2 linked regions of the Homo sapiens genome follow. The protein of the gene in region 1 purifies or fractionates together with the protein of each later gene. This does not show direct contact. Each region holds a gene or a part of one and is shown on either strand. Other genes may lie near its edges.

The links.
Region 2: the proteins of HSD17B2 (region 1) and MBNL2 purify together in Homo sapiens (affinity purification with mass spectrometry, with the first as the bait; one large-scale study listed by BioGRID). This does not show direct contact.

The regions. Positions count from the first base shown.
Region 1 is NC_000016.10:82,038,019-82,041,849, reverse strand, and holds part of HSD17B2 (17-beta-hydroxysteroid dehydrogenase type 2), read right to left. Parts: intron 1-3,831. UniProt on the Homo sapiens protein: Catalyzes the NAD-dependent oxidation of the highly active 17beta-hydroxysteroids, such as estradiol (E2), testosterone (T), and dihydrotestosterone (DHT), to their less active forms and thus regulates the biological potency of these steroids.
Region 2 is NC_000013.11:97,389,722-97,393,552, forward strand, and holds part of MBNL2 (muscleblind-like protein 2), read left to right. Parts: intron 1-1,600; coding exon 1,601-1,728; 3' UTR 1,729-3,831. UniProt on the Homo sapiens protein: Mediates pre-mRNA alternative splicing regulation. Acts either as activator or repressor of splicing on specific pre-mRNA targets. Inhibits cardiac troponin-T (TNNT2) pre-mRNA exon inclusion but induces insulin receptor (IR) pre-mRNA exon inclusion in muscle.

The sequences.
Region 1 (3,831 bases):
CCTCTCTCAGAGGAGATAATTGATACCACAGGAGCAGGTATGACTTTGCTGCTGGGTAGAGAATGCAGCCATATAAGAAGGTGGAGTAAAGACAGAGTCAGAGATTACCTTGGAGGAAGTGTAGGAAGAACCCGGAAGAGTCAAAGGACAAAGAAGCATGGAAATGCAGTTCCTGCAAGGCTAACGAGGCCATGAAAAGAAAGAAAGTATGGTCGGCAGTGCTGGAGCAGAAGTCAAGCTCTGGTGATTAGAAGGACACCAGTGACACTTAGAGAGCAGTTTCAGCAGACTGGTGGAAGCCAGTGGATGTTCTATTTGTGCCACATCCTGGGTAAGCAGGAGCACGCTTAGAACCAAATCAGCATAAAGCCTTGTCCAGGGCAAGCCAACAATTAAGTCACTACAGAACAATGGAGCTTCCAACAGCTCAGCCATGTCACTCTGCCCTTTTTATGCAAATGACCCCAGCAAAAAGAACAGCAAAGGTAAGTACCTAAGTGAGTGGGCAGATTGGGACAATCCTATTGTGTCCAACTAACGACCATGAAAAGGAGAGGACGTTTCACCCACATGGTTGGTTCACTCACTGTGCATTCGCTCATTAACACTGTGTTAGGCCTAACGTGCTGAGAGACTGAGAAGAGGCACATGGTCATAAAAAGAGACCTGGTTCCTGCCTTCAAGCCGCTTGCAGTATAGTTGGCATGGATTTCCATGCAGTCAGAATACTCCCCAGTCAAAACACTCCATCTATAATGCCTGATACAATCATTGTTCAAACTTTCACAAAATTACCCGGGTTATCAAAACCTTTTTTATGCTTCCCTGTAGTAGGTAAAGGTAAAACTTAAACCGCATGATAAGTGGGGACATTTGTTCATGTAAAAATCATCTGGTAGACTGAATTATAGACTCACTAAGGGCCATCCTTTCAACATCCACCATCACTTTGTTGCTCATGCTTCTCCAGCATCTATCTACAAATCTAACCAAGTTCTATTTCATTATTTCCAATTTCCAGTGACACTTCACTTGAACTACCCTTCACTGCTCTCAGACTCAGTTCTGAAGTCAAGCTTAGCACATGGCATGTCTCAAATCATCACCCTCTGCAAACATCCCTAGCCCTGTGTATGGTACTCTTATTTCATCATCCCTCATAAGCATCTTCTACACCCAATCAATTGCCAAGCTCTGTATTAAGCAGAGTCATGGGCACATAACAGATGTTCAATATTTACTTGTTGATTGAATGGACACGTTTTATATCCTGGGTAACCTTTGTGGTCTAATACCAACTATGGATCTAACACTTCTAATGACAGTGGTTAAGAGGATGGCTTTTGGTGAGAGATGGATCTGATCTGGGTTTAGTCCAATCTTGGCTACTTAGTAGCTCAGTGACTTTGGACGCATTTCCTTGTTTACAAATGTGAATTATTAGGGTTGTGAGAATCAAATATAAAATGCATGTAAAGGTTAGAGCACAGAGATGTTATTTCTCTTAGTCTCTTAGTCCACTGTCAATGTTTATCCATCTTAATAATCTAACGTGAAATCCAAAGGAGTCCAAACCCCAAGATGATACCCATGGTATTCAACTTGAGAACCTTATTTGGACTGTTCAGTAATTGCAAGAAGGGATGATCACTCACGTGAGACACTTTCTTGTGAGCATAAAATATTTTCACTGAAAACAGATCTTACTTCTCCTCCTGGATCCGTTCTCCAATATATCCAGTTTTGAAATTTTCAATTAAAAATTATCTAATGCAGCAAGCCTTATTGAGTGCTAGCTGTATTTGTTGTAGCTACTTAACCAATTAGGCTGGAATACCTTCTCACTTTCCCCCTAGAAAACTAATTTTAGATTCTTAACGAGGTCCCTCTTTTTTTGTCAAGCTTTCCCCAGCTCCACACACAAGACCTGTGTCTGCCTGGGATCCGCTTTGGGAATGAACCTGGAGGTTTCTTATGTGCCCCATCACACAGCCACAGTTGGGTGTGGCCGTGTCTTCCCCAGTGGTCCATGAAGCCCTGAGGTGTCTGCTCTGTACACAGTAGATGCTGAGTCGGTTCTCAATATTTGAGATGACTGGAGGGGGCAGGATGAAAGGCCAGAGGATAGAAACTTAAAGTTACCTGTGCATCTCCTGCCAAGCTTAGAGGGTAGGCTGAGAAGGACAACGTGTAACCTCAGAAGAGGGGGAAGGAACTCCAGTGAATGTGTGTCCAAGATGAAGGAAAAGTAGGAATTTTGATCCCATCGCTTGACAGTAATTTCCTGGTCTTAAAATTTTCTTCCCCCTTTGCTTCTGGAAAATGCATGGCACATACTGGGCCCTCAATGAATATTTATTGAGTGAATACATGAATGCTTCTTCTCTCTGTTTGTCAACGTTTTCTTTTGTTCTTTTTGTTCCTTCATGTTCTTCCTAACTACTCAAGCTTTCCCCTCACCACCCCAATACAGTCATTCTCTCTCTCTCTCTCTCTCCCTCTCTCTCTCTCTCTCTCTCATCTGCTAACTCCATCTATAGTAGTATAACATATGCAGGGGTGTGTGTGTGTTTGTGCGTGTGTGTGTGTGTGTGTGTGTGTATTATTTTCCATTTACAGAGGAGAAAACAGAGTCCCAAAATCCAAAACCGAGCACCAAAGTTTACACAGCTGTCCACACAGCTAGTAATAAAGATGCAGCAAATAAGATGCTATTCCCCCAGAACCCTCCCACTGTTGTGTGCATCAATCCATGGTGCACTTTGACTCCCAGCAGCCAGCACCTGCGATTCTTTCCCCAAAGGACCAGAACCCACTTTGCCAGCCAGTGTCCACATGGTGCCAGAAGTGCATGGAATTAAGTCTCCCCTCCTGCCCACAACCAAGGGGGAACAGGGGTGACTGCCCTTAACTAATGATTGACTGGTGTGAAGGCATAAAGACTACAGCTCTCTAGTCTCCAATTGGCACAGCTCTGATGAGTGATCCACACCACCCCACGTCCGCCCAGGGTGATCAAGCCCAAGTGATCTTCAGAGGACTTCTCAATGTCTCACCCTTACCTGGCTTCTTCCTTTTCCCTGCCCATCTTCTCTGGAAACCCTCCTAATAAATCTTTCCCACAAATCCTCACAGAAAGCACTGCCTCTGGGGACCTAGCCTAAGGCAAGGTAGATGCAGGATTCAAACCCAAGCCTGTGTGTCTTCAAAGTTTTTTCCCACTATGTTGTGGTTGAGATGTTATTACAATCGTGTTGGTCTGCTCTTTGTTCATTTTACAGTTATACATTTAAAATGCATCATACAACCCTGTCTCTACTAAAAATACAAAAATTAGCCCAACGTGGTAGCACGTGCCTGTAATCCCAGCTACTTGAGAGGCTGAGGCAGGAGAATCACTTGAACCCGGGAGGCAGAGGTTGCAGTGAGCTGAGATCATGCCACTGCACTCCAGCCTGGGCAACAGATTGAGACCCCATCTCAAAAAATAAAATGAAATAAAATAAAATAAAATGCATCACACATACATTTTAAATATTTGAATGGCCTCTGTGGTTTCAGGTATCTTGAAGACAAATATGTATTCAAACACTCTATGCTTGCTTACTTTTTCTTACTGTAATTATATTGTCTCTGAGGCAACAGACTTTTGAACATCTTAGCAAAATGAAATAAAGGGCTCAAAGGGGAGAAAAAAGTCATTTTTTTAAATTTGTCTTTGTAATTGCCTCTCACCTGGGTCCAAAATTAAATACAAACTAAAAGGAGCTTTAGCTGTTTTGTGTTCTCTTTTAAGTATTTTTATTGTATGAGTAATGTAATCACACCAGA
Region 2 (3,831 bases), on another chromosome or scaffold:
AAGAAAGAAAGAAAGAAACTGCAATTTTTTTTCCAGAGTTATTTTAGAAACTTTTTTTTTAAAAGTAAAAGAAAAAGAAAAATCAGACATGATTTGATGGACTAGGGTGCGTTCTTATTTGGAAAACTTACAGATAGGCTTGAAACTAAGGGATGAAATCAAAACATTTCTATTTAATATCTAAATCTAGAAAATTTGAATATTACCTATTGGCAATGATAATATTCAAAGATAATAGTATTCAAATACTAGATGCTGTGTTTACATATAAAATAATATCTTATTAATTTTATTCATGTCTGTTAGTACACAAGACAAGGAATGCTATTTTTCCCAGTTAATTTTACATTCCTAGGAATATTTAAGAATCAAAGAATGACCTTATCTGAAGTTTTAAGTTTCCATTTACTATAAATATTTAATGTAAATTAGTTCTTTCTCTATTTTTATGAATTCTCTACACATCTGTCTGTTTCAATAAAATAAAGAATACTCATGTTTATTTCATGGGAGGAACATATACTAAAATTGTTGCATATAAAGTACAGGAGCACTCACTTAAAGGGAAAAAATATCCACGTGGAGAAATTATACATAACAGGATAATACAGTATGCTTAGGAAAATAAGGCTTTTGTTGGGAATTGAATCCTAGTGTGCAGAAGTATTAGCTGACTCTCATTATAAACAAATTTTACCAGTTATTTCCTAACAGACTCTTGTTTAATGAATAAACGCTTTGCTTATTAATTACACAAAATTTGGTCAAAGCATTAGAAAAGATTAAATAGTTTTGTTACGGTGTGTTAAAAACTTGGCTTTTAACCTTGACATTTAATGGATTGGACCACACGGGCCAAGTTCCTTCTCCTTTGCAAAGGTATGGAGCTGGAAATGAACTTAGAGATCAGACTCAAGGGACCACAGCTTGCACTTAATAGTTTACCTTTATCTGTGCTTTAGCTGTGCTTTTGGATGTATTAAGAACTTTTTAACTGCCTTAATAGACTGTTATCCCTTTTACTCTTTGATATGTGACATTTAAATATACCTTGAATTTGAACTGGTTGTCGTTATGTGTTGGGAACAAAATTACTTTTGATGGGAATACATTTTTGAATTAAAAATGCAAGTTAATAGATAAATAATATCTGATTATTATAGATTTTGAAATATTTATATTTAAGCCTTACAAATGACTTTTCAGTACAAACAAATTCTCTGATTAGACTTTCTGATCACCGTAGCAAATATGAATTGGACAATAATGTGAATGTATAATAAAGAGCTATAAAGCAAAAATTTTAAAAAGAAATTGTGGTCTAAACATGCATGCCTCTCTATATGCTGCCACAGTTTTCCAGAAAGTACTGTGCATTTGAATCATCTTTCTTTATAGTGGCCACATAGCAGAAGTGGTTAAGTGTAAAGTTTTTCAGCATGAAGGGCGGGTATTGTGCAAATTTATAATTGCATCAAAATAATGAGAGATTGAAGAAAACTCTGATTTTCAAATGTCTATTTTTGAAGAGTAAAACTTAAACTCATTATTTTTCCTCCCAGAAGGATACCTAAATCATGCTTGTCTTTCTCTTTAACAGATAATTCTGAAATAATCAGCAGAAACGGAATGGAATGCCAAGAATCTGCATTGAGAATAACTAAACATTGTTACTGTACATACTATCCTGTTTCCTCCTCAATAGAATTGCCACAAACTGCATGCTAAATAAAGATGTAGTTCTTCTGGACAGACCACAACTCTAAGAAGCTAGTGCTGCTATCTCATATATGAGTATTAAATATGGTATGCTTAGTATATTCCAACCTAAGATAGTTAACTACCTGAGACCAGCTGTGATGTTTAAAGACATAAAGGATAAAGTTTACTTTTAAAGGGTTTCTAAACATAGTTTCTGTCCTAGGAATATTGTCTTATCTCCATAACTATAGCTGATGCAGAAAGTCCAGCCAGTTTACTCATTTCGATTCAGAATATTTCAAATTTAGCAATAAACAATTAGCATTAGTTAAAAAAGAAACATATTCCAAGGGCAGGTTCGATTCTAGCTCTAATTACTGTCATGTCATTTACCCACTGGATCAAAGGGTATGTTTCACTTCTTGACAATATAAATGCTGCAGCAAAGATGAGAGGTGAAGTAAAACCGATACCTGTCCTGCAGGTCTAAAATTTGAATGGAAATTCAAGCACAAGTACTGGGGACACATCAAAGTGTGGTGTTTGGTTTGCCTGGAGATGCCACGTTGAATCATGTGATTCTAGATTAACATTAAATAGATTGAAAAAGAAACTTTGCACGGTATGAGCTTCATACCCCACCAAACAAAGTCTTGAAGGTATTATTTTACAAGTATATTTTTAAAGTTGTTTTATAAGAGAGACTTTGTAGAAGTGCCTAGATTTTGCCAGACTTCATCCAGCTTGACAAGATTGAGAGGCCCATGCCAACAGTCTAATCTAAGAGATTAGTCTTTCAAACTCACCATCCAGTTGCCTGTTACAGAATAACTCTTCTTAACTAAAAACCTAGTCAAACAAGGAAGCTGTAGGTGAGGAGATCTGTATAATATTCTAATTTAAGTAAGTTTGAGTTTAGTCACTGCAAATTTGACTGTGACTTTAATCTAAATTACTATGTAAACAAAAAGTAGATAGTTTCACTTTTTAAAAAATCCATTACTGTTTTGCATTTCAAAAGTTGGATTAAAGGGTTGTAACTGACTACAGCATGGAAAAAAATAGTTCTTTTAATTCTTTCACCTTAAAGCATATTTTATGTCTCAAAAGTATAAAAAACTTTAATACAAGTACATACATATTATATATACACATACATATATATACTATATATGGATGAAACATATTTTAATGTTGTTTACTTTTTTAAATACTTGGTTGATCTTCAAGGTAATAGCGATACAATTAAATTTTGTTCAGAAAGTTTGTTTTAAAGTTTATTTTAAGCACTATCGTACCAAATATTTCATATTTCACATTTTATATGTTGCACATAGCCTATACAGTACCTACATAGTTTTTAAATTATTGTTTAAAAAACAAAACAGCTGTTATAAATGAATATTATGTGTAATTGTTTCAAACATCCATTTTCTTTGTGAACATATTAGTGATTGAAGTATTTTGACTTTTGAGATTGAATGTAAAATATTTTAAATTTGGGATCATCGCCTGTTCTGAAAACTAGATGCACCAACCGTATCATTATTTGTTTGAGGAAAAAAAGAAATCTGCATTTTAATTCATGTTGGTCAAAGTCGAATTACTATCTATTTATCTTATATCGTAGATCTGATAACCCTATCTAAAAGAAAGTCACACGCTAAATGTATTCTTACATAGTGCTTGTATCGTTGCATTTGTTTTAATTTGTGGAAAAGTATTGTATCTAACTTGTATTACTTTGGTAGTTTCATCTTTATGTATTATTGATATTTGTAATTTTCTCAACTATAACAATGTAGTTACGCTACAACTTGCCTAAAACATTCAAACTTGTTTTCTTTTTTCTGTTTTTTTCTTTGTTAATTCATTTAAACTCATTGAAAACATAGTATACATTACTAAAAGGTAAATTATGGGAATCACTGAAATATTTTTGTAGATTAATTGTTGTAACATTGTCTTTCTTTTTTTTCTTTTGTTTCATGATTTTGATTTTTAAAATTATTAGCACACAACTATTTTCAGCCCTTTAATAATGGAGCATCAAAAACATCACCTGTAACCCCAAGCAAATATAGAAGACTGTATTTTTTACTATGATATCCATTTTCCAGAATTGTGATT